7 separate regions of the Homo sapiens genome follow, and all the other regions are linked to region 6. The links come from fine-mapping of genetic effects on gene expression. A gene starts in region 6. Each other region holds a variant in brackets. All regions are shown on one strand. Distances are between the middles of the regions.

Evidence for each region.
Region 1: its variant is fine-mapped to the expression of UMAD1 in whole blood (TOPMed, PIP above 0.99).
Region 2: its variant is fine-mapped to the expression of UMAD1 in subcutaneous fat (GTEx, PIP above 0.99).
Region 3: its variant is fine-mapped to the expression of UMAD1 in whole blood (INTERVAL, PIP 0.98).
Region 4: its variant is fine-mapped to the expression of UMAD1 in whole blood (TOPMed, PIP 0.93).
Region 5: its variant is fine-mapped to the expression of UMAD1 in whole blood (TOPMed, PIP above 0.99).
Region 7: its variant is fine-mapped to the expression of UMAD1 in whole blood (INTERVAL, PIP 0.94).

The regions. Positions count from the first base shown.
Region 1 is chr7:7,718,984-7,723,370 of GRCh38, reverse strand. The region is part of intron 2 of UMAD1 (UBAP1-MVB12-associated (UMA) domain containing 1); the gene reads right to left. Among named protein-coding and RNA genes, the nearest start is that of RPA3, 2.6 kb to the right of the region's middle. The variant A/C (reference allele first, on the strand shown) is at 2,472.
Region 2 is chr7:7,746,374-7,750,760 of GRCh38, reverse strand. The region is part of intron 2 of UMAD1 (UBAP1-MVB12-associated (UMA) domain containing 1); the gene reads right to left. Among named protein-coding and RNA genes, the nearest start is that of RPA3, 30 kb to the right of the region's middle. The variant T/C (reference allele first, on the strand shown) is at 2,556.
Region 3 is chr7:7,783,187-7,787,573 of GRCh38, reverse strand. The region is part of intron 2 of UMAD1 (UBAP1-MVB12-associated (UMA) domain containing 1); the gene reads right to left. Among named protein-coding and RNA genes, the nearest start is that of RPA3, 67 kb to the right of the region's middle. The variant C/T (reference allele first, on the strand shown) is at 2,610.
Region 4 is chr7:7,877,453-7,881,839 of GRCh38, reverse strand. UMAD1 (UBAP1-MVB12-associated (UMA) domain containing 1) reads right to left here. Exons shown (of 4, transcript NM_001302348.2): 4 at 2,617-4,387. The coding sequence ends at 4,302. All of the region lies in intron 3 of LOC124901586 (a long non-coding RNA gene), which reads left to right. Among named protein-coding and RNA genes, the nearest start is that of GLCCI1-DT, 89 kb to the left of the region's middle. The variant T/A (reference allele first, on the strand shown) is at 2,608.
Region 5 is chr7:7,886,572-7,890,958 of GRCh38, reverse strand. The region is part of intron 3 of LOC124901586 (a long non-coding RNA gene); the gene reads left to right. Among named protein-coding and RNA genes, the nearest start is that of GLCCI1-DT, 80 kb to the left of the region's middle. The variant C/G (reference allele first, on the strand shown) is at 1,729.
Region 6 is chr7:7,638,502-7,642,830 of GRCh38, reverse strand. UMAD1 (UBAP1-MVB12-associated (UMA) domain containing 1) reads right to left here and starts at 2,079. Exons shown (of 4, transcript NM_001302348.2): 1 at 2,010-2,079. It overlaps RPA3 (replication protein A3), which reads left to right. Exons shown (of 8, transcript NM_002947.5): 5 at 1,656-2,511; 6 at 3,687-3,761. The coding sequence starts at 2,413. RefSeq lists enhancers at 1,619-1,788, 1,869-1,918, 1,959-2,158, 2,429-2,478, 2,849-2,898 and a silencer at 2,259-2,388.
Region 7 is chr7:7,870,950-7,875,336 of GRCh38, reverse strand. The region is part of intron 3 of UMAD1 (UBAP1-MVB12-associated (UMA) domain containing 1); the gene reads right to left. It overlaps LOC124901586 (a long non-coding RNA gene), which reads left to right. Exons shown (of 4, transcript XR_007060206.1): 4 at 4,094-4,387. Among named protein-coding and RNA genes, the nearest start is that of GLCCI1-DT, 96 kb to the left of the region's middle. The variant T/G (reference allele first, on the strand shown) is at 1,885.

The DNA of each region.
Region 1 (4,387 bases), 81 kb before region 6:
TCCCTGAGCTGTAACATTAAATGCAGAATCCCTACTTAGTGGGCCCAAATCAATAAATTCAGCTTGATCTAACTCTATGTTCCTTCCACCATTATCCCACACCCTTAATATCAATTCCCACGCCTGTTCTCCAGATTTCTGCTTATGTAAACTGAAAAATTTAAGCAGTTCTTCTCAAGTGTAGCACACCTCCTCATGGGTCACACTCTGAACCTTGCCTCTAGGGGCCCACCAGGACTTTAGTCTAGTTATAGCTCTAGAAGCAAACAGGGATGTTGGCAGTGGCTCCTGAGGAGAATCAACATTATCTTGCCTGGCAACTGCTCAGGGGAGGCCATCACTGTTGCCTCAGGCAGTGCAGGGTTTATCTCCTCAGACAAAGGTGGAAAGGCTGATGGCAGCATCGGTTGGAGAGGGAATGTTGCCAATACTGGGGATGGAGAAGCTGTTTCTTCTGGCAAAAAAGATTGATCAGGGTTTACAAGCTCAGTGTCCCCAGCTTCATCAGGGTCCTCCCACACGTCCCCATTCCAAGTTGCAGGGTCCCATTCTTTTCCAATCAATGCCTTCACTTTAACAGTAGACACCTGGTGAGGCTGTGCATGCACCTTCCATTACAGGTCAGCCACCCACATGATAAGAGCTTGTGTCTGTTTTGCCACAATTTCAGCTCTTTCTCTACAGGAGGTAAGACTCTCACTGAGGGCAGTCTTAGGAGATTTAAGGCTCAGTATATGCTTCTGTAGCCAGGAGTCAGAATCCCTGAATTCATCATTTTCCTTCATCACTTTGTCCAGTGAACTTAGGAGCAACCAACCAACTTCATTACATTCCTTAGTTCTCCACATACAGCCTAAGGTATTATGTACAGAGTCACTAAACCCCTTGTCTCACATGGGCGGTAAATCAGGAGTGTCAAATGCATTTATTTTGCATAACTGTCTAAACAGTTCATGCCAAGGACTATCAGTGTTCTCTATACCATTAGAAGTAGAGTCCTTCGCATTATTGGGTCTAATCATATTAAGCAGCCAACTCCAGAATCCCCAAAACCAACGAAGGAACTCCATCCTTAATATTCTGTTCCTCTAGAACCACTCCTCGTACCAAAATCTATATTAGTCAGGGTTCACTGGAGGGACAGAACTAATAGTATATATCTATATATCTATATAGATATATAGATATACATATATATACATATATATATATAGAGAGAGAGAGAGAGTTTATTAAGGAGTATTAAACTCACATGATCACAAGACCCACAATAGGCCGTCTGCAGGCTGAGGAGCAAGGAAGCCAGTCCAAGTCCCAAAGCCGAAGAACTTACAGTCCAATGTTCAAGGACAGGAAGCATCCAGCATGGGAAAAGATGTAGGCTAGGAGGCTAAGCCAGTCTAGCCTTTTCACGTTTTCCTGCCTGCTTTATATCCCAGCCAAGCGGGCAGCTGATTAGATAGTGCCCATCCAGATTAAGGGTGGGTCTGCCTTTCCCAACCCACTGACTCAAATATTAATCTCCTTTGAAAACACCCACACAGACACACCCAGGATCAATACTTTGCATCCTTCAATCCAATCAAGTTGACACTCAGTATTAACCATCACAGATGGGGAGTTCAGTAAAATCCCTGAGAGGGCAGGTAGCAAAATCCTCATGGACAATCACAAAAAAGATCAAGGAGGAGGAAGAGGCAGCACAGAGATTGATTCACTGCCTCTGCAGAGATCTTTCCTGGGGTGGAAGTGAGTTTTCATTCCAGTAGAAGATCATAAAAGTGACAGTTCCTGCTGATGACAAAAGTCTCCTCCATATTTTATGAAACATAACTCTGCCATCACCATTTACTACTTATTCAAATGCATGAGCTTCCTTTTAAGGAAAAATGGCTCCTAATGGCAGTATCCCCTACGGCTCACAATTATGCAGCAGTAGTGTGGTTTTCACGCAGGTGCCTTAACATTTAAAGTAGAATTCAAATTTGACCACAATGACAGGTCCAGAGCTCATGAACCTCTGCACACATATGGAATATGTGAGAAAAGAAACTTGTCAAAAATCCAAATGACAGAAAAAGAGATTCACATACTGTATTAGTTTCCTAAAGCTGCCATAGCAAAATGGTACAAACGTGGTGGCTTAACACAACAGAAATTTATTCTGTCACATTTCTGGAGACTAGAAATCGTCAATCAAGTTGTCAGTAGGGCTAAGCTCTCTCTGAAGTCTCTAGGGCAGAATCCTTCCTTGCCTCTTCCTAGCTCTGGTGGTTTCTTGCAATCCTTGGTGTCCCTTGGCTTGTGGTGGCATCATTTCGATCTCTGCCTCTCTCACATGGCCATTTCTCCTCTGTGTCTCCCTGTGTCCAAATTTCCCTCTTCTTATAAGGACATCAGTCAGTGAAGGAGGAGGGCCCACTCCAATGAGTATGACCTCATCTTAACTTGATTCCATCTGCAAACAGATT[A/C]TATTTCAAAATAAGGTCACATTCATAGGTACTGGGGGTGAAGTCTTAAATATACCTTTTTGGGGGGACAGAATTCAACCCATAACTCATACTAACCACCTAGTCTGGATTACTAGAAGGCAGCACACCTGCACTTAGCCTTCACTGAAGGCTCTTAATTCTTCAGTAAAATGCCCCTTGTTTTAATAAAAATGTTTAAATAAAAATACACAAAAAAACAAATTGGCTTCTTCTACAAAATCACTATTGAAGATGCTTTTTTTTCTCAAAAAGTCTTTTTATAATTACCATGAAGAAAGTTTATTTCTTTTGATGACAGTGAAAATTTTTCTTTTGTTTGGCAATTAGGAAGCTTACTAGTCAGCACTATAGTACTGTACTAATACTCAGTAGTCTATAGTACCATAATACTACAGTAGTCTGGGTGTTTCTCAAGTTTAGATGGGGAGAGTAAGTTAGGGGGGGAAATGATTAAAAACACAGATGCCTGGGACACACTCCAAACCTATAAAATCAGAAGTGATGGGGAAGAGGCCCAGGGTTATTCGCTTCTGACAAGCAGCCAAAGTCATTCTGCTGTATACCAACTGTGAGTGCCACCAGCCTAGGGTTTTTACATCCCATTTCCCCCTTTATTCTCAGAGATGTATAGTTTGTGACTTTTATATTTTAATGCTCTTGTGTCCTTTATTGCAAGCTATATTTTTTTTAGCTATTTACAATTAAGATTAACAAGCAATTTCTAAGTATTCTACTTCTGAACTATACATTTGAAATAATACTTGTGACTGTATTTTAGGTTCTGTAGCACTTTTCCAAAAATGACATACATTTTCAAACAGATGGCTTTATTCATGCTTACCAAGTCCCTCTGAGGTACACTGGAAGAAGAAACTTTATTCCCTTCAAAAATAAAGGCTCAAGTCCAAGTCAAACTGAGTACTTATTAAACACCTTTAATGTTCAAGACCCAGGGAGGTACTTCTCTGAATATGGAAAGGTTAGTGTACCACTTAAACACAGTACACTGATTTACCATCTCTTGTTTGTACAGAATTAAATAGTCTAGACAATTTAATTATTTTAATTGATCAGTGTAAGTTGTTGTGAACAATTCAGAATAAAAGCTCCAAGTACAAGTACTTTCTTTCCACATTATTCTTCTCATCTTCAGTTCACATATGAAAACTAAAGCCTCCTAAACTTAAGATTATAAAGTACTGCAAAGTACAGTAGTCACTAACGTGAAAAAAAAAACTACTACTTTCCATGGCTGTCTATAGCTCAACTCTCTGAAAAATATACAGTCGGTTTGAAGTCTTTTGTGAAATCCCTTGTGAGACTCTACTGTTGACTGTGGTTAGAATACATTCAAAAGTATAATCAGATTGCATCATCACCATCACCTGCTCAGAGGCAAGTTGAAGAAACATGTGCTCATGAGGCTGAAGCTGGCTTATTGTACTACACTCTCATGTGGGCTTGCCAGAGAGATTAGTCACCATTTTGCAGCTGGTTTCAAATTCAGTTGCTGCGATACAAGTGCAGATGCAATGGCTTACCCTAATTATATTGCTCCAGTTTAATCTTTCCATTTGTAGCATACTATATACTGGATCAAATTCAAGACTCTGGATTGGTTTCAAATAGAAGAGATTTCAAAATCACACATTTGTTATCCTCTCCTAAAGCTTGCTGATCATATTTCATCATTGTATCTGCTAGATCTTCTGAATTCACCCTAAAGGTGTTTTTAGCTCTCTAAACCATCACTAAATCTTGATAATTAATAAAAATGCAGAAAAAAACAGTTCTTAAAGCTTTTTTTAACACAATAAAAGGAAAGTTATGTCATCTCCAAAAATACTCATATGTTTTTTAAAATTTCAATTTTCTTCCTCTTTGGAATTAAATAT
Region 2 (4,387 bases), 110 kb before region 6:
ATGTTCTAGCTGTGTGATTTTGAGCAAGTTACTTAACCTCTCTGTGCCTCATTTATCTTATTTGTAAAATGGGGATAAAATAATGCCTACCTCATAAGTATACTGGTGAGGATTACATGAATTCATGTTTGTAACTACTTAGAACAGTGCCTTACACACAGTAGTGTTGTATATGTGTTTGTTAAATATAAGAAAAATATGAAACCGTGTATAATATAAAATGGGCCGTCATTAAAGAAGCTATAATCAAGAAATCAGGTAGTTATTCTAATTGGAGTGGAGTTTTATTATTTTCCATCAAGTATTGTACATTTCAAACTGCCAAAGACAATTAGTTCAAATTTAAAAGCACAAACACATTTCTGGGCCAAATAAACAATTTGTACATTATCAATACCATATCTATCTCTGATAATGAGGAAGTCAAAGACTGACAAGCAGCTTAGTAGAGCCTGACAGATGTGAAATGGACTCTAGCTGGGCAGTTTTAAGGAATTTATTTAATTTTTTGGAAACTCCGTTTCCAGATTTGGGCAAATGGGTATAAATACTACCTAGACTTCTTAAGATATTAGTTAAAATTACATTATATAAGACATATATAAAGAGCTAATATGTAGTAGAAGATACTTAATGCATAGAAGTTATTATAATTGCAATTGACCATAATTCTATTTTGCTAATATTCCTCCTTACATTATAGACCACTGCTTCTCACCATTCTAGCAGTATAATTAAGAATATTTATCTTCCCTATTCACTTTTGTTAAGATGTCAAACATAATCAATGTCTGACCTTGTCTTGGACTGAGACTGAATAACATTGGTGAAAGAGATCCTTCATGGATATTTATGAATGCAAATGTGACACATAACGTCCTTTCATTAGTAGTTACTTACATTATTAAAAGTTTTACAGAACTTAGATAAACTATCCTGGAAAATAATACTCTTATCTTAGACGTTTTCTGTGTAATAAATGTTTCAATTTATAGCACCTTTTATGAGAACATACAAAAATCTCAATATATGCTATTTTATAAATCTTTTCATCATATCTACATATTAGATCACAGCAAATATCAACGCCCAGTTTTATTTTAGAAAAATATGAGAGTAAAGATTCATGACTTGCCCTCCTAAGCATGCCAAGAGGGGAATTCACATAATTTCTCACTTTTCTGAAGGAAGCCTTTGCCACCAGTACTGAGAACACTATAAAATTAAGTACTGGAAGCTAAAATTGCTAAATATTCTATAAGCCATGAAAAAAACGCTTACCCACTCCCATTCCTGGAAAAGGCATTAACTAATGTTCCTCAAATATTTTTCCTTGGATTAGGCAGAAACAGTTCAAACCCACAGAAGACACATAGCTTTCACGTGGAATACGGGCTATTAAAGTGTGCACTGCTGGAAAGTAATTAAACCATACTGTACTCTCACTGAGGTGAGATTATAAAAACCTAGAAAAGAGTCCTTCAAGGAAAATGTGTCAAAACCATTTAAATTAATTTAGCACATCAAATTTCACTCTATTTATTGTGGAATTGTTGCAGTTATTTTAACATTAAAAAGAAGTAACTGATAAATTGAATTTGTTATGGAATCCCCCACAAACCTGTCCTCAAATCTATTATAAAACACCAATACCAAGTATGGAAAGGCTCATGCTAGAAAGTTTAAAAACATTATCAAGGGAAATTTTTTTTAAGCAAATACAGAAATCAATGCAAAGCAATCACACTGATCTGGGCGAAGAAGAGCCCAGAGTAAAAGAAAATCATGTGTAATAGGATATCTCTAGCACAGCCAGAAAAGGAGGGATAAAAGAGGGAATTAGGAGTGTGAGAAGTTTGGCAGTTCTTAGATTTACTGATGACCCTGCCTGGCTGATAGAGCTAAATCCTAAAGTATCCTTCTGATAAATATTACATTATTTTCCCCAAATTTTTGCTCCTAAAAATAAAAGAATTTTTTAAATTTTTATATATACAAATATATAAATATACACATATACTTATATGTCTATAAATGTACTACTCATCCCCAAAGAACAACATGATAGGTTGTATTTTAACAGGAATGAAGGTAATAGATGGGAATTTGGTAAATGTGTAAATCGGCATTATGATTATATTATTAATATTAATGTGCCACCACAGGAAAATGTTGATAACCTTGCTGTAAATGTAAATCTAAGCCAAAAATAAGTCCTTCCTCACTTGATCCCCTCAAAAAATTACAGCAGCTCTAACAATGAGACATTGATTAATTTATATTCCAATCTGGAAATGGTTATCTAGTTCTGTGGCAGAAGTAGATTTCAAAATATCACTGTTAGTCTACCATATGTCTAGAAATCTTTATTTTATAAATGCATATTGAATTCATATGTTATAATTTATGGAATATAATTTGGTTTAAGGAATTATTATATTATAATTTTATGACATAAACAATTACATAACAAAAAGTAAATAATAAAACATATAACTTTATAAAATAAAACATATAGGCCGGGCACGGTGGCTCACGCCTGTAATCCCAGGACT[T/C]TGGGAGGCCGAGGCGGGCGGATCATGATGTCAAGAGATCAAGACCATCCTGGCCAACATGGTGAAACCCCGTCTCTACTGAAAATACAAAAAAAAAAAAAATTAGCTGGGCGTGGTGGCAGGCCCCTGTAGTCCCAGCTACTCAGGAGGCTGAGGCAGGAGAATCGTTTGAACCCAGGAGGCGGAGGTTGCAGTGAGCCGAGATCACGCCACTGTAAACAAAACAAAACAAGAAACATATATAATCATAAAACATATACTTTATTAGATGATTATGCATTGTTTTCCTACTTTTTTGGCTCAGAAATGGCACATCATCTAATAATTCAATGATTTAGATTTAATTTCTATACATTTTCCCCAAAATACAGGCAAAACTTTCTTTTCCTCTAAGGAAAATTATTTGTTAAACTGAAAATAATGAAGACTAAGTTTTCCATTAAATGGAGAAATAAGGCAACCTAGCAGGTAACAATGAAGATTTCCCATTTCCTGAAACCCTGACCTAGTGGACTCAATGCTAGAGATGAAAGGACCAAAAACCTCCATGTTTGTTCTGTTTTGAGTTACTCCTCTGGCAGCCTTCTCGGCAGTTTCAATTGCCTAAAAGGCTTATTATTTCTTGGAAAAAATATACTTCATAATTACTAAGTGTCATGATAACCTAAGATTTGACGCTTTCTGACTGTCACTGTAATGGAAAGAGAGCCATCCTCTACTACTCTGTGACCTTGACCAAGTCACTGCATATCTTTGAGTCTTGGTTTTCCTCATCCATGAACCAAGATGGAAACATTTGCCCTGCCTTGTTCTAGGGATTTCTGAAAGGACCAAATAAAGTAGCACGTATGAAATGCTCTATGATATAGCAAGTGTTAAACAAATGAGGTGCCATTAATAGTTGCAAGAATAATACTGATTACCTAATTAAATTAAATATACTTAACTGTAGTGGGGCCTTTTGAAACTCTCTCGTTTAAACAATTTCTGTTCTCCTGTAGCAACTCCAAAACAATACTAGGATTTATTCCTTCCCTATTATTTAGGTAAAAGTCTTCATGGCCTAATGGCTAAAGTATCTCATTACTATTTCTCACCATGCACTCGAAGGCAACTTTGCCTACTTAACAATAAACATCATTTCTAATTAGATATATGAAGTGCCTAAAATAAACATGGCAATAACTTCCAATAACAGTTCACACACATACACACAGACACACACACACACACACACACACACACACACAAACATGCACTCCACTTAAAAGAAATATAAACATTTTTTTAAAATCTCTTAAATCTATAGGGCCTTAATACCAGAAGATAGCAATAAGAAACAGGATTGTATGTGTAAACTGTGTCAAAGCCAATAATAAGGCATTCTCAAGTTGTGTTTGAAATTCTTTAAATAAGGTGGCCTTTTTAGCGAATTAAGATAAAGGTGTGAAACATCTGAGGGACAGGGCATTTGGCTGGCATTCTGCCACATTCTGCACCAGATAATTTCAGTTGCTGCTATTTGTCTCATATGTTTTTTATTCTTCCTCTAGGGAAGTCAAAGCCTTTTCACTTGCAGGCCAATTTTACTGTAGCTCTGGTAACTACTTTACAAGGTGATAAGCATTCACAAGAGGCTTTTATTAGGCCAGTAGCTAAGGCAAAAACTACATGCACATATTTAAGCAACGTGTGTGAAATGAAAGACTTTAAACGTATGTGAGTTCCAAGTTAGCACACGAAAACTGCTTATCTAATGAAAAGGCTGGGGATAAGAGAAAGGAGCATTTTTAAATAGTCTAAAATGCAATTATAAAATTGTATATTTTCTT
Region 3 (4,387 bases), 140 kb before region 6:
ATAACATGAAATATAAAAGTTGGCTGAGACTCCAAAGGAGTTTTGATAAAGTAATTTTATTTATCATATTGTATTCAATGCTGTATTTTAAAGGTTGCTAATATGTATTTGATTAATTTTAAACACCTATATTTTCAAAGCAGTACTATACTAGAAACACATGGCAGCAAACTTGCAATATATTTTTTAATTCCTCTAAAAACAACAGTACTGTTTCAAAAAATCTGGAGTCATTTCAGTTTGTAAAGAAGGAATCACTAATATCAAGACTGGTTAAAGAGTAAAAACATTTACTCCTTTAAAGTTATGAAAATCATATATGGTTTATATACTTTAAACCTGTATTTCTAATTACCAACAAATTCCACAGTACTGCTTGGTTTCATAAATTAGATATTCTTGAAATTAGACCTACTTCATTAAATCCCCATCATATATTTATATCATCATGACTCAGTGTTTTCAAATAAGTTCAGCAGTTTTCTAGGGGGCAGGTTTAGTGAAATTAGAATTCAACTGGACACGTGCCTTATTGCAAAACAGATTTTAAAAATTCTAATCTCTAATAAGTTGTTTTAAGGCTTGGAGGACTAGCATGGAATAAAAGAGAAACATATTAACTAACCAGCTGTTTTACGCAAAGTTGTCTAAGAGTAGCGGCTTCACTCAAATCAACTTGTCTCAGTCAAATCCCTTCTCTTCTCCCACTCCCATGCTTTAACCACATCCGGACTTAAAGTGAGGCAAACCTTCCTCCTCCTATGGCTGTCAGGTTCTCTCTTCACTCTGTGAGAAAGCACATCAATCCCAGTGAGAGCAAGGCATCTGGAAACCAGAGCACAGTGGCAACAGGGAGAGCCTTTCAATCTAAGGCAAGAGCAAAGTATTTCTCTTCTGCACTAAACTGATAATAAATTCAGTGGGCAATAATCCAAATTATAATAACAGTAAAGACTACAGTTATTATGTAAAAAATATTTCTCTGAACAAGGCTTACGGGGGGTGGGAGGGAATTCTGAATGTTTACTCTTCTGTAAACCATCAGCTGATCTGTACACTACGCATCTACCTCCCCATCTCATAGCAAAATTAGTAAATGATGATGGTTGACATTTTCAGTAATGTAACGAACAGGAGCTGTGCACCACCTGATAGACTGCAATGAAAAGAACACATAATTATTGTGATATTCCTAGCAAAAATTCCTGAATCATAACCTGCATCTAATTGCAAAACATGTCAGACAAACTCAAATTGAGGGATATTTTACAAAATAATTAGCTTGTGATTTTCAAAAATGTCTAGATATTGAAGGTCATGGAAACACTGAGGAACCATTCAAGATGGAGGGAAATTAAAGAGACATCCCGAGTAAATGCAACATGTGATTCTAGACTGGATCCTTTTGCTGTAAAGGACATCACTGGGACAAAACGTAAATGTAGGAGATGCCCTTGCTTTTATGAAATGCACACTCAGGTATTGGAAAGTAATGAGACATCATATTGTCAATTTACTCTCAAAAGATTCCAAAAAAACAAAAAGCACTTTGTACTGTTTTTGTGACCTTTTAAGTTTGAAATTATTTCAAAATAAAAAATAAATGAGAGGAGTAGTTAGGATGATTAGAATACATGAATATGATATACAGATAGGTACACAGATAAATATATTGATAGATACATCTCACAAGTTCCTTTAACCCACCAACTAAAATGGAACTAATCCTTTACCCCTTTCACCTTCTCCTCCTAGGTACTCTTTGTGTCAAGGAAGAAAAAGCATCACCAATTGCCCTGCTTCCTCTTCCTCCCTCACTCCCCACATCATGTCAGTCAGCTAGCTGGCTCTTTTGTATGCTGGCCTCCACGTTCAGCTTTCTAAAGCCACTGACTCTACTCAAGTTTAGGCTACCATGATTTCTGTGATTTCCACAAGCGGCCACGCAATCAATCTCCCTTCCTCTACTTGTTCTCCTTCCTTCAATCCATTCTCCTACTCTTTCTTAACACAGACCTGGCCTTTGCCCCATCCCACAATTATTTTATGGCCCCTATTGTGCTTAGGATAAAGGTCAAATTCCTTTTCATGGCTTGTAAGTCCAGGATGATCGGTCCCCTGACTAACTCTCTCATCCCTTTTCATCCCTTCGGTTCCAACTCTACACTCCAATCATAAAACAACTTTCAGATCCTCAAATCTGCTTCCGTTCAGGTGTGCTACTCTGTGTGTCTTGAACATTCTTCCCCATTCCATGTCACCTCTTTCCACTGAACACACAATCAATATTGAAGAAATATTCAATGAGTAAATGAATGATTGACTTCTTAAAAGTCTTACTGCATTTCTCCCAAACCACTGTTCAGAAAGTTTTCATTCTATCACAACTTTTTACCATACCCAGATTCACTTCTTATACAAAATTCTATGCCTACTTGATTTATTGGTGTCTTTTTCTCTTAACCCGCTAAAATCTGAAGGACTGATACCAGATTCTTTAGACACTTGGAAATGACCATACAGGAAAAGTTCTCCACAAATACTACACATGCCACGAAATCTCCAACACAGTTCAGACAATTAGGGAACCTTTCTAAGAAGGAAGGACA[C/T]GGTGAAACCCCGTCTCTACTAAAAATACAAAAAATTAGCCGGGCGAGGTGGCGGGCGCCTGTAGTCCCAGCTACTCGGGAGGCTGAGGCAGGAGAATGGCGTGAACCCCAGGGGGCGGAGCCTGCAGCGAGCCGAGATCGCGCCACTGCACTCCAGCCTGGGCGACACAGCAAGACTCCGTCTCAAAAAAAAAAAAAAAAAAAAAAAGAAGGAAGGGCAGAAGCTAATGTAAAACATATTCAGATGATATGGTAATATGTAACTGGGTTGGTCTTGTTTATTTTCTGATATAGCACTTTTCCTCAAAAGATTTTAAGTAGGCCGGGCACGGTGGCTCACGCCTGTAATCCCAGCACTCTGGGACGCCGAGGAGGGCGGATCACGAGGTCAGAAGATCGAGACCATCCTGGCTAACACAGTGAAACCTCATCTCTACTTAAAAAAAAAAAAAATACAAAAAATTAGCCGGGCATGGTGGCAGGTGCCTGTAGCCCCAGCTACTCGGGAGGCTGAGGCAGGAGAAGGGCGTGAACCCGGGAGGCGGAGCTTGCAGTGAGCCAAGGTAGCACCACTGCACTCCAGCCTGGGTGACAGAGCAAGACTCTGTCTCAAAAAAAAAAAAAAAACAGAGATTTTAAGTAGAAAATTTTAAGTCATGGAAATCACAATTTCCTTGAAAATTTCATGAAAGGGGACAAACTCCTTATAATAAGCTCTTTCCAATAACTTTATTAAGTAGGAATGATTTTGCTGATTTAATAAGTGAAGCAAATAACAAAAGAGAGTTTAAAAAGTTCCCAGTGTCACAAAACTCCTAAATAGCAGAGCCATATTTAAACTAAAGTCTGTCTACAGTCAAGATCCACACTTCTTCTAATACAATTATAAAAGGAAACAATTCACTCAAAATTTTCTTCATAAGCAATATCCACCTTCAGAATGGCATACTATCAGTTTGCCATAGGCAAACTGGATCCATTTATCATCTTTAATTTCTTCCTTAATTCTTTAATTTCTTCTTCATCTTTAATTTCATCTCCTTTTGGTGAATGTACTGAATTAGAGTAGACAGCATACCGTGTCAGTCTTTGGTCTTATTTTGCTTAACCAGAAGTACAGTATACTGATCATTTTATAACATTGTACAAAACAAACTGCATTACCGCGTATAACAGGGTGCCTATGAAAACAGTTTTTTGTTGTTAGTTTTTAAGTATTCTGCTGGTGTAATTGTTTCTGGCTTTGGTGCTTTGTTTCTACTTTCTTTTAAGGACTTAGAACCAGTTTTACGCCTCTCTAATGAAAGCACATCAGTTTACCTCTATAATTCCCAATAGTTCGTTTTTAAGCTACAAATCTTGGTAGTTAAGACCTGGAAGCAGCCTTTGAGATTATTTTGGCTAGTGCCCTTCATCCTCATTTCCAAACCCATTTTATAAGTGAAATCTGAATACAGTGTCCTGATTGTCCATTCTGATTCTCACTTCCCAGCCTCGTAGCTCAGCAAACACCCAAAGACACAAACCGTGCAGCATCTGAATTTCTCTTTTAGAAAAAAAAAAAAAAACAACTTCTATTCTATTCTACAAAAGATAGGATTCTCAAGTTGTCATATTCCAATTCTACAGTCATGAGAAATAATTAATTCCTTTGATTTTGATAAGAGAAAAAATGTATTTTAATAACCAACAGCCCTGGCTTACAGACTATTCTGAGGAAGTTACAACTATCTGTAATTGATCTGACCTAGTTTCATTTTACAAACTTAGACAAGATG
Region 4 (4,387 bases), 240 kb before region 6:
TAAACCCCACTTGAGAAATATTCTACAAAATACTTAACCAGTACTCCTCAAAACTGTCAAGGTCATCAAAAATAAAAAGTCTGAGAAACTGTTGAAGCCAAGAGGTGCCTAAGGAGATATGACGACTAAATAAATGTAATGTGCTATCCCAGGTAGGCTGCTGAAGGAGAAAAAGGACATTAGAGGAAAACTATGAAATCTGAACGGGGTGTGCAGTGTAGTTAATTGCAATGTACCGGTGTTGATTCCTCGGTTGTGACAAATGTACTGCAGTTACGTGACATGTCAACAACAGGGGAAACTAAGTGAGGGGTATGTGGGAACTCTCTGTAGTACCTTCATAATTTTTCTGTGAATCTAAAACTATTCCAAAATAAAAAGTTTATTTAAATTTTTAAAAGACTGACATATTGTCACATCGACTGAAACAGAGTTCCCTGCGTCAATCAATACCTCTTTCTCTCTTTCCCACACACGCCTATCTGCCAAACCATATGGCAAAAAGAGTCCTTTTCCTGAAACATAAGAATACTTAATCCTTCAAGCCACTGTAGTATGAATGGAATTGGACTTATTCTGAAAGTTTTAGATTTCCCAATAATACCTAGGTCATGCCCTCAGTAATATGGGACAAATGCTCAAAAGAGAATGTCAATAAACCTGTATTTCCCAAAAACTTTAAAAGATAAACCATCCTTCAACTGCATTTCCAATAAACTTATATTTTGTGTGAGTTATTGACATAATTAATAAGATAACGCACTAATCTCTGAAAGAAACATATTCTTTGCTAGATTACTGAGGGCAGTGTTCACTTATTGATCAATTGTTACCATGGGAGGCACAGAGGTAGTCTGATGTACTACGGTTTCAGAACATGAGTGAGATTCTTTCCTTGCTTCTCCTTATCTGTCATTTAGAATTATGAGAAATGAAATCTCTGGGAATTTTAGAAGAATTTTTTCATACTGTTTTGAATTTACCATTTTTCTTTAAGAGAAGAAAAAAATAAGTGTTGACGTCAATGAATATTTACCTTAAAAAACTATTACGGATTTGATTTGCAATTGTTAATAAAAATTGTGGCTTTGTTAACATTTTAATGGTACAATTTTAAAAGTTCAGTTGATCAAAATTTAATTAGCCAGGATAATAAATTGGTCAGAATCGCCTCTCTCATTCTGTTTTTAGGAAAGAATGCAAATGTCTTTAAAGAAAGCTTGGGAAAAAAATACATGCAAGTTCTTGAATATATTTTAGGGCTAAAAATAAGATTCAAGGCTGGGCACAGTGGCTCATGCCTGTAATCCCAGCAATTTGGGAGGCCTAGGCGGGTGGATCATCTCAGGAGTTCGAGACCAGCCTAGTCAACATGGTGAAGCCCTGTATCTACTAAAAAAAAAAAAAAAAAAAATTAGGCATGGTGGCAGGCACCTGTAATCGCAGCTACTTGGGAGGCTGAGGCAAGAGAATCGCTTGAACCCAGGAGGAGGAGGTTGCAGTGAGCCGAGATCATGCCATTGCATTCCAGCCTGGGTGACAAGAGCAAAACTCTGTCACAAATAAATAAATAAGATTCAGTAAAATCACCTGCACATTCCATATCTATAGTACTTTGCAACAATAACATATATTAGGAAAAAGACTGTAATAACGAGAAAAAGAAAAAAATGTTCACTATGGAATTCTTAGTTAAGGCAGAACAGTCAACTAACATATTTTAGGAATATTTCTCATAGTAAGGTATTTAATATGGAAAAAAATAACTGGGAAGGAGGGGGATCTACAGTTAACGTAGGTAGCTGTTTTATTTATGTTACTCTTCAAGAAGTTCAATTAATATGTATTTTGCATTTCATTATAGTATTGTGTGTGTATGGTCAATAACGAGAATTATAACAATCCCTTTCCCAGAATACCGATGATGTGCAAGGCTTTAGGCTGCCAGGCATTTGACATACACCACCTATAACTTAACACAACGCTACAAGTTATGAACAATTAGTGTTTCACAATTGAGAGAACTGAGGGCACCAGAAGTTAGGGGACTGATTGAAAGCCCCACAGCTTATAAAGGAGGGAGCCATTACAAACTCTGTCTGGCTGCCTCAATTGCCTGAACTCTCTCCCACCATATCATACAGCTTTGTTATCATATATTATAATTACTAACACTATTAAAGTAGGCATTTATTTATCACTAAGTGATTTAAGTCATTTAGTCTTTCTAGGCTTCAATTTTATCTTGGGTAAAATGAAGTTGACGTATTGATTTCTAATGTTTCATAGAAATATTAATTTATATACAGAATAAAAAATTAAATGGTAATTTTCACAATATTTTTGTTTAAAGAAGAAGATCATTAACATTGGCCCTTACTAAATGTTGTGATGATGGTATCAATCTAGAAATGCTCATGTCATCTCTCTCAAATCCCTCCAGTCCTGTTAAGCCAGGACTAGGGATCTTACCATTTTTAATGTTATTCCTTAAAACTTACATGTAAGAGGAAATCGTATATTTTTCCCAGCACTATACAAACTATATACTTAAACTTTTTGGCTCCTAAAGAATTAACAACTTGCATTCAGATATAAATAATGCAA[T/A]CAAACCCATTTTTCTGGATCTGAAAATAATCAAAAATTTTATTTTAATTCACATTTATTTAAATATAACATTTTTTATAGACACATGAAGGTACTTATGAACATTTATAACATGGTAGGCACAAATATAGATGAAATGTTTAGGTATTTTCGACAAAATTTCACACAAAATTAGACAAACTGACTATGTGCTTGCATTTAATTTCAAGGGTACATTAACACAGATATTTGAAAAGGATGTTCTTTTACAAAACTACTACAAAATGTTCACGTTTGCATCAGTAATAAGTCATATTTCCTAGACTGATGCTTTGTAAGAACTATGTAAAGATCTAATTTAATCATTAACACCATATGGTAACATTATATGTAAATGAAGCATATTTTTGTCAATAGAAATGTTCCTCTAACTTTTAAATAACATAGCATTTGTATTAAAACCATGCCACATTTATTAAACAAACATGCATAATACTTTAAAACTGGAATAATTCATGTACCTTTATGCACAGTGTTTAGTTTCACTATGGCACTCTATCTTTGTGAAAAAATATACTTAAAACTTGGCACAGAGTTAACAAATCATATTGCTGGTAATCAAAATAAATGTGATTTCAATTTCCCATGACATAGAAAATTCTCTATCACAATTTACCTCTTCCCTTTACAGTTTATTGACCAATGGCAGTTCTGTTTTCATTAAAGTAAGTAATGGATATTCAAGAACTAAAAGTCATATCTAGGTGTTCTGCCTATACTCTAATTGGAAATGAGTTGATTTCAGTTTTTCCAGCAGTAAAACATTTCCATCTCTATTGTGGCCAACAAATTTCTAAATAAGGGTGTTATCAGCAATAATATGTATCATCATGAGATGTTTTTCTTCAGGAGGCAGAGGGGTTGAAAGGAAATGTGGATCTCTTCATAAACTGGGAACATATGTGGTAAGGAGAGCAAATGGCAACCGAGGCAGAAGCAGGGAAAGTTCTTTGGAAAGCTGGTCAGAGAGCACACTGAAGTAGCAAAAAGGCAGAGAACAAAGGTGGGAACACAACGATTATTCACGATGGAAAGGGCTGCCATGGGTTTCAGAAAACCGAAATGGGCCACTCCAGAAAGAGCACGCAGAGCAGGTCTAGCATCCTTGTATCAGCAAACTAGCACTGCTGTTTAGGACAAGTTTTAAATTTCCACATCAATGCATCTGAAGAAATTAAGCTAACTGGCAACTTTTTTTCTGAATTCATTCATAAACACTGTGGAAGAAAAAAATGCAGGAATAACACCAATTCAACTTCCTACAAACCAGAGAGGAGACTTCACACCCACTTCTTGCTCAGACTTCGGAGCTGTAGTGACTGAAAAATGCCACAATTCTTTTTCACAGTTCTTCTAAGATAAATTTGAGGTGTTATATTTTGAGAGACCATCTGAAGGAATCGAGTCCTTTCCTAAAACCTTCATAGCCTAATTTGTATATTTATTATATGGGAGAAAGGAAGTAGAACTTAAGTTCAATTTGTATACAAATGTACCTTTTTCTTAAAAATAGAGTAGTGAACATAATGCTATTTTCTTTGCTTTATGATCCTTGCTGAGGACCTTAAACAGTGAAACGGCAAAGAACATCAAACAGGTTAGATAAAATAGGCGAACATATTTTAAAGCTGTTAAGGTGCAAACAGACATAAAGGTTATGAATCACAGAGCACTGAATTTTCAAGAGTGAAATCATACCAAAACCGTGATAAGTTTTCGCTGCCATCATAGGAGAGTAAGT
Region 5 (4,387 bases), 250 kb before region 6:
CACTTAACCATTTCTAATGATGATGAAATAGTTCTACAATCAATCGTGAGCTTCAAAACTTTGATTATAAGAGGTGCATCTCTGGGAGAGGATCTGCTTTAGGGGAAGGAGCATATACTAAAGAACACATTTAAACAGGGAGTGGGAAAGAGGTGGGGAGGAGGGAAGGTAATCCCCCTCTAGTGACAGTGGTGATAACACATCTTACTTCGGCATTGAAGACCTTTGACACTAACATAGGCGGTCAATCATTTGAGATCCAACAACTCCAATAATGTTTGGAAGTCAGATATTCATTGAGCACCTGCTGTGTGCAATGTGTTTTATTACATAAAATCATAATCAGCTTGCCCTTACATATCTTACAATGTACTTAGAGAGTTAAGATTCATCACACAATATTGTGAGAAAACAAGTGGAAGAAACAGTGGGAAAATCCGAATGCCAGAGCCAGAGGGGCTCTGAGATGACATGTGTCGGCCATTCCTGGAGAACACATTCATGAGGGGGCTGAAAACGGAGCTGCAGTGAGCGTTAGTATGTGTGCAGGCAGGATATAAGACCAAAAGAGGGAGCAATACCATCAACAGAGGAGTGACATGGCACCAGAAAGGAGATAAGGAATGAGTAGGTGTAAAAGAGGTTGGCTTGACTGGGCCCTGTGGGAAATAAGGTTCAATAGTGAGAATGGGGCCAAAAAGGAGACATGTACTCAATAGTTCATTATTTCCAGGCTAGTGACGAGAATATGGCTTCATGTCTAGGTGCTGCAGCTTTGCATTCTGTTTTATCACCACCACCCCTGTCCATTTGTCCATTCTTTCTATATCTTGTTGCATTATAAATCACACACTCCAGGCAAGGTAATTAAAAAAATAATAAACTAGCCCCAACAAATTTTCTTGGATGCTCTGAATAACCAGTGCTTGGCCTCTGAATCACCTCCTTCCCTGACTTTCATTTAAACTGGCTCACTTACTTGGCATTTCATGATGATCAAACCTGTCTTTGGTGGTCAACTTGATACTGTTACTGCTACCTGTAATATTAGACTCTAGAATGAAAAGTGCTAAGGATACAGAACTTGTCTTTTGTGTATTATGTTTTGTCATGCTTAGGGTACATTTTCTGGCACTCTGTATTTAACAAGCATAAGAAAGCACACCCAGGCTGAAGGATATCACATTTGCTGTACTTCAACACAACAAAAGCAGCAAGCCCAGTGGTCTCGCCCCCTAGAGTGGTTAGAAATTTCACTGGGAAATGAGGCCCTTATCACAATCCACATAAAAAAGAAATCATGCCTCAGGTGTATCTCTACATATACTAGAAAAGCCCCAATGGAAACAAGCCTGAATGGAAATAACCTACACCCAGAAGACAACTGGTTTGCTTAAAGGGGGTTTAATTCCTACAACCACTCTCTGATAGTTAAATATTGCCAAGCGTAGAAACTTAAGAGTTGCTTAAAATTACTCAAGTGGGAAACCTAAGGTGGGTATAGAGAGTTTCAGCAGGTAGTCTTTCAATTTGGAAAAGAAGAAACTATTGACCCCTGACACTAATTTAATCTAGCATTTTAGTCAAAAGGCCGGGCGCGGTGGCTCACGCCTGTAATCCCAGCACTTTGGGAGGCCGAGGCGGGCGGATCACGAGGTCAGGAAATCGAGACCATCCTGGCTAACACGGTGAAACCCCCGTCTCTACTACAAATACAAAAAAAATTTA[C/G]CTGGCCATGGTGGCGGGCGCCTGTAGTCCCAGCTACTCGGGAGGCTGAGGCAGGAGCATGGCGTGAACCCGGGAGGCGGAGCTTGCAGTGAGCCGAGATTGCGCCACTGCACTCCAGCCTGGGTGCCAGTGCAAGACTCCGTCTCAAGAAAAAAAAAAGAATTTGTTTTTAAGTTCTGGAGGCTATTTTTGCTGAAACTCTTTCTAATGAAAAATTGTATGACTTCTTGATGTTACAAAGTATTTGCAACTTGTTATTTAGGTAACAGAAATGAGAATTTTGTTAACCAACAACAGGGTTTCTTCTCCTCCTCCTCCTCCCCCTCCCCCTCCCCTCCCCCTCCCCCTCCTCCTCCTCCTCCTCCTTCTTCTTCTTGGCTAAATCAAAGTTTTAAGAGATTGGCTACTATTCCCCATTTATTGAAAATGATGTATTGCATACCTGCACTTGCATCTTGGGAGAGAAGGGGACCCATGAAGAGGTTGCAATAACTAATGTGGTAACCACACTAGTTAGAAATTCAGTTAACTAATAGTGCACAAAATCATTATAATCCATTACAGAAATTAAAAAGTTAAATTCAGTCAGTAAACTGGCTATCAAATAAATGGACCAGTTAAAGAATATTTTAGAACCTGTTTTGATTGCATGAAAAATCGAAATTGTGGTTTTCCTTTCTCAAATAATTGTTATTTTTCCTCAAAAGCAAAATGAGCTTATCTTTCAATATGGGCCATCACCAAAAGGGTTAACATTTCCAAATCCTTCAGTAAGGTTAGATTACATAAAAACAAAATGCTACAGCCCATTAAAAAATCAGGTATTCCATTTTATGGTACATATTTAAATCTATTCAAGTCCATGCTTTGAAAAGAGCCATGTAACTTAATTGGCATTAAATAATGTTAATTTAATAGAAGGAGGAAGAAAGGTCTTCCCAGGTAGATATTAAAATAAGCCAAAAAAATAGGCTAGGCACGGTGGCTCACGCCTGTAATCCCAGCACTTTGGGAGGCCGAGGTGGGTGGATCACTTGTCAGGAGTCTGAGACCACCTTGGCCAACTTGGGGAAAGCCCGTCTATGCTAAAAACACACACAAAAAATTAGCTGGGCGCGGTGGCTCACACCTGTAATCCCAGCACTTTGGGAGGCTGAGGTGGGAGAATCACTTGAACCTGGGAAGCAGAGGTTGCAGTAAGCTGAGATTGCACCACTGAACTCTTGCCTGGTCTACAGAGTAAGTGAGACTCCGTTTCAAAAAAATAAAATAAAATAAAAAATAAAGTAAACCAAAAAATAAAACTGAAGTTATAATACATAGATCCAGCCAGCCATGGTGGCTCAATGCCTATAATCCTAGTACTTTGGGAGGCTAAAGCAGGAGGATTGCTTAAAGCCAGGAGTTCATGACCAGCCTGGGCAATAAAGTGAGATCCCATCTCTACAAAAATTAAAATATTAGCCAGGCATGGTGGCAGGTGCCTATAGTCTCAGCCACTGGGGAAGCTGAGGTAGGAGGATCACTTGAGCCCAGGAATTTGGAGTCTGCAGTGAGCTATTATCACACCACTGCACTCCAGCCTGGGAGCAACAGAGCAAGACCCTGTGTCTAAAATAATAATATTAATACATAGATTCATAGTAACTTACATCCCAAAAATTTAATCTGAAGACTTAACACTGTCTGAAAGATTATAATAAATATAAAATGTCTTTATTGTATTAATGCTGATACAGGTCACCAAACAAAAGGGGTAGAAATTTAAAAAGCTAATTTATTTAGAATACAAGATATGTTTGGGAGCATTAAAGAAATGTAGCATATTCTAATAGGGATATCTGAAAGGTTTCCTTAAAGGCTTCCAACACAGACACAAGGGCAACATCTAATAGTCTAATATAGATGGCATATAAACTCATGTATTTCCTTGAATCAATAGTGACTCAATCATTCACCTACTGGACAAATTTTACCGAGCACACGCTGTATGTCAGGCATCATGTTAAGCACAGAAGTCTATATGTTGGTATCAATTCAGAGTTATGAATCAGACAGGGAACAAACAATTACAATACTATGGATCAAGAACCTTCAAAGAGGGGAGCACAGGTTAGCACAAAAACATGGAAAGAGATCAGTGCAGCTCAGCAAAAATAAAGGAAGACTCCTAGAGGAGATGATACAGAAAAAAAAAGTCTTGTAATAGGATTTAGCTGGGTGAAGAAGGGAAGGTCAGGGCATTCCAGGGAAAGGAAATAGAATATAAGGATAATCAAAGAAATTATGGCATGTTAAATGGCGCAGGGCATTGCTCAATAGGGCAAGAACACAGAATATATGAATTGCAATATCATTTGCGGAGGCTGGAGAGGCAGGTGGGGGGCCCTTGTTTGCCTTAAAATGCCTCAATTTTCCAGAGACACCACAGAAGCCCTGAGGAATTTATCTGTATTTCTTAATATATTTCATCTGGCTTTAGAGTAGAGGATGGATGGGAGGGAGGCTTAACTGGATGTAGGGAGATCAGTTGGGTGAAATGATAAAGACCGGGACTGAAGCAGGAGTAGTAGTAGGTCTGGAGTACATATTTGACAGACAAATCTTTTAGATGTATAATTAACAAAAGTTTATCATCAATTGAGTATGGAGGTAAGAA
Region 6 (4,329 bases):
TCAAGATAGTGTTTACTTATGGCTGTAGCAAGGAGGGCTTCATTGGGGAAGTGCAAACTGGTAAAATTTACTGGTAACTGGTAAAGTTCCATTTCTTCAGCTGAATGACAGGCCCCATGGATTCATTTCATTTCTCTCAAAACTATGCAAATCGGCTAGCTATACTTTTTTCTGTACATCATGTATTTTATAATATTTTAAGTGACTCAAAAATACACGAAAAAGCTGTTTTAAATTATCTTCCTGCTCATCTCCCTGTTTTAAAAGAAAGCCTTTGCTTAAAAGTGGTCTTTCTAACTGCAGGTAAACAACGACATTAACATCTGGTACTCACAGGAGTGCTCTTTAAAAAAAAAAAAAATCACTATTACAGGGTACGCACCAAGGCTCACACCTGTAATTCCAGTACTTTGGGAGGGAGACGGGGGAGGGAGGGATCGCCTGAGCCCAGGAGTTTGAGATAAGCCTGGTCAACATGGCGAGGCCCCATCTGAACAAAAAAAAACAAACAACAAAAAAAAAATCTTTATTAGCTGGGTGTGGTGGTATGTGCTTATAGTCCCAGCTACTTGGCAGGCTGAGGTGAGAGGATCGCTTAAGCCTACGAGTTAAAGGCTGCAGTGAGCTATGTGCATGCTACTGCACTCCAGTCTGGGTGACAGAGAGAGATCTTGCCTCAAAAAAAAATGCTATTAAAGACATTGATGTGTGTACTCTCCCCTATATAATGCACATCAACTTGCTTTGCAAAACAATGCTAAAGTACAAAAGACTTAAAGCTGTAATATAAAATAGACTTTACTGACTTGCACCAATACAACCACAACTTTTTTATACACCACTGACACACATTCTACATCTGTTTAATGAAATCCTTTAAAGTACCGTTAGTGAGTAAAACTAAGACAAACCTATTAAGTGCTAAGGAAACACTAAGGGAGACTATCATTTAATTATCGTACATGAGATTCCAATCTTAAATTGCCACGTGAAGTCTCAAATCGGATCTTTTTTGCTTAAGGGAATTTGAACGATGACAATTCTGTAGCTTTGGGCCAATTCACAGACTCAGTTTCCACAACGTTATAATACCCAATTAAAACTTCTGTCCAATTTCCACCGTACCGTTTGAAGGTATTTTTATGTGCACTCATTCTAGAATACTCCTGGCAAGGCCGCCGGCTTCGGGTCACAAGATGAGCCAGGGACAGATTGGAGACTACCCCCAAATCTCCCAGGAATCGGTTATCTTCCAGACCTCCAGATCGCCCTCCAGAGTCTCGCAGTGTGGAGGGCAACGACAGAAAGACTGCTGAGGGGGTTTAAACTGTTGAGTCAAACATATGGCCAAAAGTCAGAGTCAACTGGGACCTTGCAAATCATTCCGCCTAACCCTTCGTTTTGCAGATGGGGAAAACACGCCTCAGAAGGGAGAACCCTAGCTCGGGGAACCCTAGCTCGGGGTCTAACAACGATTTAAGCTTGTCTCCCCTAGTACTGGCCAGTGGTTCTTCCCCGTTACCCATCCTTAAGTGCTTCTATTGGCTGCCAACACGGAGGGGTTAGCGGGGTGAAAGAACCGGCGCCTCCGCAGTGTGGCCAGGTTGGGCTAAAAAACGTCTTAGAAGTAATCGGATCAATCTCTCTTCTTACAGGTGGAGAAAGTGGAGAAAGTAGAGTGACGCAGCTAAGGGAGTAAATCGACCCTCAGCCAACAAGTGGCAAAAGCCTGAAGAAAGTGATCAAGATCACTGATGACCCCGCTGCCCATCTCCAAGGGGGCGGGTATCACAACCCCGACGCCACACCACGTATCATTCCGCAAAACTCCCGCGCCTCCCACGCAGAACTGGCAAGAGGGAAGGCGAGACAGCAGTGAACAGCTGGTACGCAGCACCCACAGCACCGCGGCAGCAGCTAGTGCCGACTCCCGCCTAGCTCTTTTGACTCTGTTCGCGGGAAGAATGGGGAAACAGTAAGGTTGCGGCGCCTCCCGCGAGACGAGGTACCTGAGGCTGGCCCCGCAGTCCCCCGCCGCACCAGCACCGGAGCTTCACACCCCACTTCCGGGGTCAAGTCACCGCCGGGAATCCTGTGATCGCAGAAAGGTAGTCTCAGGTTCCGCCCCTATCCAAGTCCCGCCTCCACTGCCTCTCGCCCTGTATCTGTCAACTTCCGGGACGCCGCGCGTCACTAAGCAGCCAATCTCCACTTCCGGACTCATCCAGCCCCTTCTCCACCCCTTTCAGAGACAGCGCGATTGCGATTTAGGTTTCCGCGCATTTAATTGGCGAAGCTGGAGCGCTAGTCTTCGCTGATTGGTGCCGAGAAATCTGCCCCATAGACACCCGCGGGGCGCACAGTTTCAGTCGTCCGTGGGTTTCCCGCCAGCCGCAGTCTTGGACCATAATCATGGTGGACATGATGGACTTGCCCAGGTCGCGCATCAACGCCGGCATGCTAGCTCAATTCATCGACAAGCCTGTCTGCTTCGTAGGGAGGCTGGAAAAGGTGTGCGGGTTCGCAATCATGGGCTCCCAAGTCCGTAGCTGGAGGGAGGGACCCCGCCTGGATAACGGGGGATGAAAAAGGACGGAAAGCCTCCGATCACTGCGCCCCCGACTCCTTTATTTTGCACAAGGAACTTTTTGGAAATTCTTTAGCCGTTGTAGCCCCATTTTGGCGCTCTTTTATGGCACGGAAACAAAGTGTTTTCAAATGCTGAGTTCTAAATTCCAGTGCCCGTCGCCTCCGTTCTAGCCGTGCTTACGTAAGGGAAATTATAAACACCACTCCCACATCTACCTTCAGATTTCTTAGTTTACTCAGACGTGACGGACGCAGACAAAACTAATCTGCTGGTTTCCTTCTCTTCTGAAATTACTTATTTTTGCAAACCTCGTTTCCTCGTTGTGATCGCTTCTCTGTAAAACATGCCTTGGTTGTCCGCTTTGGGTCCCGTAGTAACGAGTTATTTAACCCCAGTATTAAAGTGAAGTTCCCTCATTCTACAGGCGAGAAACAGGCCCAAAGTCTTGGAATCAGTGACCTGAAAAGCTGAGGAAAAGAAAACTATTATATAAAGACTTATTTAGTAGCTCATTTCATCCACACATCCTCTTCCTTAAATGAGTGTTGCTCTGACTTCCCAAGTAGGGAAACTGAGTAGGAGTGGTAGGTGGTTGACTAAAATGCTCAGAAACTCGGCAAATGGCAAAGCTGGCATTCAAACGCAATCTGACAGCGCTCTTTACAGCTGCTTCCCAGGAGTAGGACCCAGATATTCTAGCAACCAGTTCTCCTTTTACTTCATCATGCCTGTTTTTTAAAACATACCCTCCGTGGGATATGTACTGTCTAAATCATGAGTGCCAGCAGATTTCACTTTTAGGGTGGGCATCCTTTAATTTGTTATCAGAATAGGGTTGCCATATTTAGCAAATACAGAACCTACTTAACACTACAAAAAAAATCCTTGTTTATCTGAAATTCAGAAATTAACTGTGTGTTCCATGAACAGATTTGATAACATAAGATTATAATTTGATCCAATAAGTTGAATAAACTGAATGAATAAACTGTTCAAGAAACAGTTGATTTGTGCTCAACTAAGGATCAATGTACTCATCTTTAGTCAAACTTTGTTGTTGTTTTAGTGAGATTTTAATTATATGTTTCGTTTTTAGATTCATCCCACCGGAAAAATGTTTATTCTTTCAGATGGAGAAGGAAAAAATGGAACCATCGAGTTGATGGAACCCGTATGTTTAAGTGTTAATAAGTCTCTTATATATTATAGTTAATTCTTCATCTTGATTTGGTTTGTTGCCGATGTTTCTAATTTTTGCAATGGATTTAAAAAGGATGAGCTGGTAAAACGTCCCTGGCTGTAAAATTTAATTCTTGTACTATTCTCTCATTATATTTCCTTTTACATTTTTAACCAATGATTTTTTGGGCGTCATGATTTTTGAACATATCCCATAAATGTTGGATAACAATTCTCATTCCTTATGAAAGACCATAAAATCACATAAGAAAAATTTACGTTGCTTTTTTCTTCCTCAAGAGGTTTTTTGTTTCGTTTTTGTTTTTTTGTTTTGAGACAGGGTCTCACTCTGTTACCCCGGGTGGAATGCAGTGGCACCATCATGGCGCACTGCAGCCTTAGCCTCCCAAGATCAAGTTGCTCCCATGTCAGCCTCCCCAGTAGCTGGGACTACAGGCATGCTTAACCATGCCTGGCTAATTTTTGTTTTGTTTTGTTTTGTTTTGTTTTGTTTTGTTTTTTGTAAAGATGGCATCTCCCTATGTTCCTCAGGCTGGTCT
Region 7 (4,387 bases), 230 kb before region 6:
CTTAGTTATTTCTTGCCTTCTGCTAGCTTATGAATTTGTTTGCTCTTGCTTCTCTAGTTCTTTTAATTGTTATGTTAGATGTCGATTTTAGATCTTTCCTGCTTTCTCCCGTGGGCATTTAGTGCTATAAATTTCCCTCTACACACTGCTTTAGCTGTGTCCCAGAGATTCTGGTACGTTGTGTCTTTGGTTATAAATGCTAATGGTTATAAATGCTGACAAATTCTTAGACTGTAAGTCTAAAGGAGAAGAATAATTTTCTGGGCCGGGCACGGTGGCTCACGCCTGTAATCCCAGCACTTTGGGAGGTTAAGGTGGGCAGATCACCTGAGGTCGGGAGTTCGAGACCAGCCTGACCAACATGGAGAAACCCCGTCTGTACTAAAAATACAAAATACTTCATAAGGGTGTAACTTGCTAAATTTTTACAAACTGAATACACATGAGCAACCAGCGCCCAGATCAGGAAATAGAAAAGACCAGCCCCCAGAAGCCCTCCTGGTGTTCTCTTGCAGTCACAATCAACCCCCGTCCTGTCAATCACTATCCTTATTTCTAACAACACAGAATTGGTTTTACCTGGTTTTGTTTTTTAATTAATTAATTTATTTATGTATTATTTTGAGACAGAGTTTTGCTCTTGTCACCCAGGCTGGAATGTCCAGCTACTTTTTGTATTTTTAGTAGAAACAGGGTTTCACCATGTTGGCTAGGCTGGTCTCGAACTCTTGAGCTCAGGTGATCCACCCTCCTCAGCCTCCCAAAGTGCTGGGATTACAGGCGTGAGCCACTGTGCCCGGCCTGATTTTGTATTTTAAATGAATGCAATCATACAGTATGAACTCTTGCTTCTGGCTTCTTTTACTCAACATTATGTGGATGAGATTCATCTAAATTGTTGCATGTTAGATGAAAAAAATCTTGAAGAACATATTGTTGGAAAGGTGATATATTCTGACTGATGTTTTAAAATAATCACCCTGGTTGCTGGGTTGACAGCAGATAGTAGAGGTGGGGTGGCCGGGGAAAGAAGTGGGAAGATAGCTGGGAATGACAGATTACTTATGAAGTCGATTAGAGCAGGGATAGCAAAGGTGAGATAAAATGGTTGGATTTTGGATAGACTTTAAGGGTAAAAGGAACACAATTTGCTGATGGAATGGACGGTGGGGATATGAGAACAAGAGCACAGTTAAGGATAAAGCCAAAGCTCTTGGCCTGAGCGATGAGACACATGGAATCACCAATTATAGGGATGGGAAAGAGTACCAGAGAGCAGGAATGGGTGGGAAGATCAAGAGTTGGGTTTTGGAAGTTTCAGTGCCTAGCGGACATCAGGTGGAGCTGTTAGTAGGCAGGGGGATATAATTTGAATCTGCAGCTGGACGAGATCTGGTGGAGAAAGTGGAGAGAAAATTAGAACAGACAGTATTTTCTAGGTGTTACGATGTAAATGAAGAAACATATATGGGCCAGTAGTTAAAAAGGGATGTGTAGTCAAGAAAAGTTTCTTTTGATTTTTGTTTTTCAAGTTGGGAGAAATAATGACAATTTATAAGCTAATAAGAAACAGCTCATAAGAAAGGAAAAAATCCATAGAGAATTTATAGAGAAGGAACTCGTCACAAAGCATCTCCAATACCTAAAACAGAGGCCATCAAGAAATATTTTTTAGTGGATGACCTCGAATTAGTAAAGTTAAAAAGCACATGCCTATAAGAGTGGTCTTATAATTTCATGTGAAAATAACACCAGAGTACTGTTTTAGGACTGCAACTAACAAATGTAATCATACTCTATTATGATAAAGCTTGTTATAAAGATGTACATCTGCAGTGGGCAGATCCTGTCTCCTGAAATCTAATTGGGACTCACCATGCTAAT[T/G]ATCCTCGGGTCAGCCAAGAGTGCAGGTATGAGTAATGACACCACCATTCTATTCTCTTTAAAGGGCTTCTCTATACACTGGTTTATATAGAAAAACTGAAAGGGAAGCAACGTTTGGGTGCACCATAAAACCTCAAGATTCCATATGCACCGGGGCTTTGATCACCTGTGAGCAGGAGAACAAAGTGGTTAGGAGCACAGATTCCAGAACCACGCTGCTTGGTATAAATCCCAGGTCTCTTGTTTATTAATAAGCAAATGGCCTTGGGCAAAATATTTAACTTCTCCGTGCCTCAGTTTCCTTAGCTGTATTATGAGATTGATAACAGTTAGCTATTTCATAGGATTGTTAAATGCAAGGATTAAATAAAGTTATATTTATAAGTAAGCAGAACAGTGCTCGGCACAGGTTAAAGTAAGTGAATAAATAACATTTTAGAAATGCCAGATCCCATTTGGGTTTAGATGAAGTTTAGAATCCATTCATCTCTTTTGACACTCACTGGTAGTTCAAATAATACCTTTCCCTCTCCTTTTATTTCTTGCTTTCTCTCTTAATCTCATGTGTAAATGTTCCCTAGATCTGGTAGTCTCATCCCACTCAAACTTTCTTTTCTTTTTTGGTTGTGTATAGAATGTTCTAGAGTTTCATTAGCGAAATCATCTCCTTTTTTAAACAAAAGCATTCCTGACATCCCACATTCTGCACTAAAGTGGAGGTATAGGCATACATTCTTTTATTGCACTTTGCTTTACGGTACTTCATAGATACTCCATTTTTTACAAATTGAAGGTTTGTGGCAACCCTGCATCAAGTAAGTCTACTGGAGTCATTTATCCAGCAGCATGTGCTCACTTTGTGTGTCTATGTCACATTATTATAATTCCCACAATATTTCAAATTTTTTCGTTATTCTATCTGCTTTGGTGAGGCATGATCAGTGATCTTTGATGCTATTATTGTATTTGTTTTGCAGTGCCACGAACCATGCCCATGTAAGATGACAAATTTAACTGATAAATGTTGTGTGTGTTCTGATTGTTCCACCAACTAGTTGGCCATTCCCCTATCTGCCTCTCCTCAGACTTCCCTGAGACAGCTCAGTATACTTTTAATTAAGACATGTACATTTGTTTAGACATACTGCTATTGCACACTTAATAGATGACAATATAGTGTAAGCATAACTTTTATATGTAGTGGGAAACAAAAAAATTTATGTGGCTCACTTTAATGCAATTTTCACTTTACTGCAGTGATGTAGAACTGAACCCGAAATATCTTCGAGGTATGCCTGTACATTACCTGTAGCATTTTGCTTTCTAAACACACAACTTCTTTTTTTTTTTATTTTTTATTTTTTATTTTTTTATGGCTGAGTAGAGCAGACTTTACTGATGGGACATGAAGGCCCCCTCCTCTTTCGGAGGTCTGCATGGAACTGCGGAGGGGAGATTCTTGATGTGGTGGGAGACTGAGTGTGGCAAGGACTCCCCAGCAGCTGAGGTTCTCTCTCTTCCTCTTGAAACACGCAGTGCCTAAGGCTTAACTCTCCAGCAGCAATATTTATTCCTCATATTTTTATTAATCCTCTTTTTTTTTTTTGACAATTCTCTGTTATTTGTGAGAACGTAATTCCTTGAGGACAAGAATGTATCAAACTATATCTAGTACAGTAAAAAAATTGGGACATGCTTTCTCATTCAAGTTATCCTGATAAAACTGCCATCTGACCTGAAGGGGGTTGCTTTACCCATTTGAGCCTCAACCCACTATTATGTAAAATGAGTGAAGAGGGACAAAAGATGAAGATGATGAAGACAACTAGGATGACAATGATGACAAGACAGCAACTAGCATATACGGAACACTGTGTCAGGCTGTATCTAAGCTGTTTAAATGTATTTGCTCATTTAAGTCTTACAACAGCCTTGTAAGGGTATGTGCTCCTATTAGTCCCGTATTAAAGACAAGAGGAAACTGAGGCACAGAGAGGTTAAGGAAGTTGTCCCAGATTACACAGCTTGTCAGTGGTGAAACTGATAATCAAACCCAATGACCATTAAAGCTCTATATTCCAAGATCCTGCACATTTCAGACATGCTTTGGATAGAATGATTGACTGAATGAACAGTGCTTCAACAATTTTAGGGTACAGCATTAGAAAATATAACAGTTATTAAAGTAGCATATCTTGGCTTAATTTAGGAAGAAAAAAGATGCTAATATTTTGTACCTTAAAGAAGAAAGGACTGAGAAAATCATTAAGGTGACAGATCTTACAGACAGGCTGAAGAAGGATGGAAAAGCAACTCTAGTTTAAGATATATTTATCCCTGGAAATGAATCTACCAGCAGTCTGGATAAGACCATGGGAAAAACACCGTGGACAGTGAAAAATTGTCTGTGAGTTGATAATTATTGAAACAGACATGAAGGTAAGTGGGAATGCACTATAGTATTCTTTCCACCTTTGTATAAGCTTGAAAATTTTTCATAATT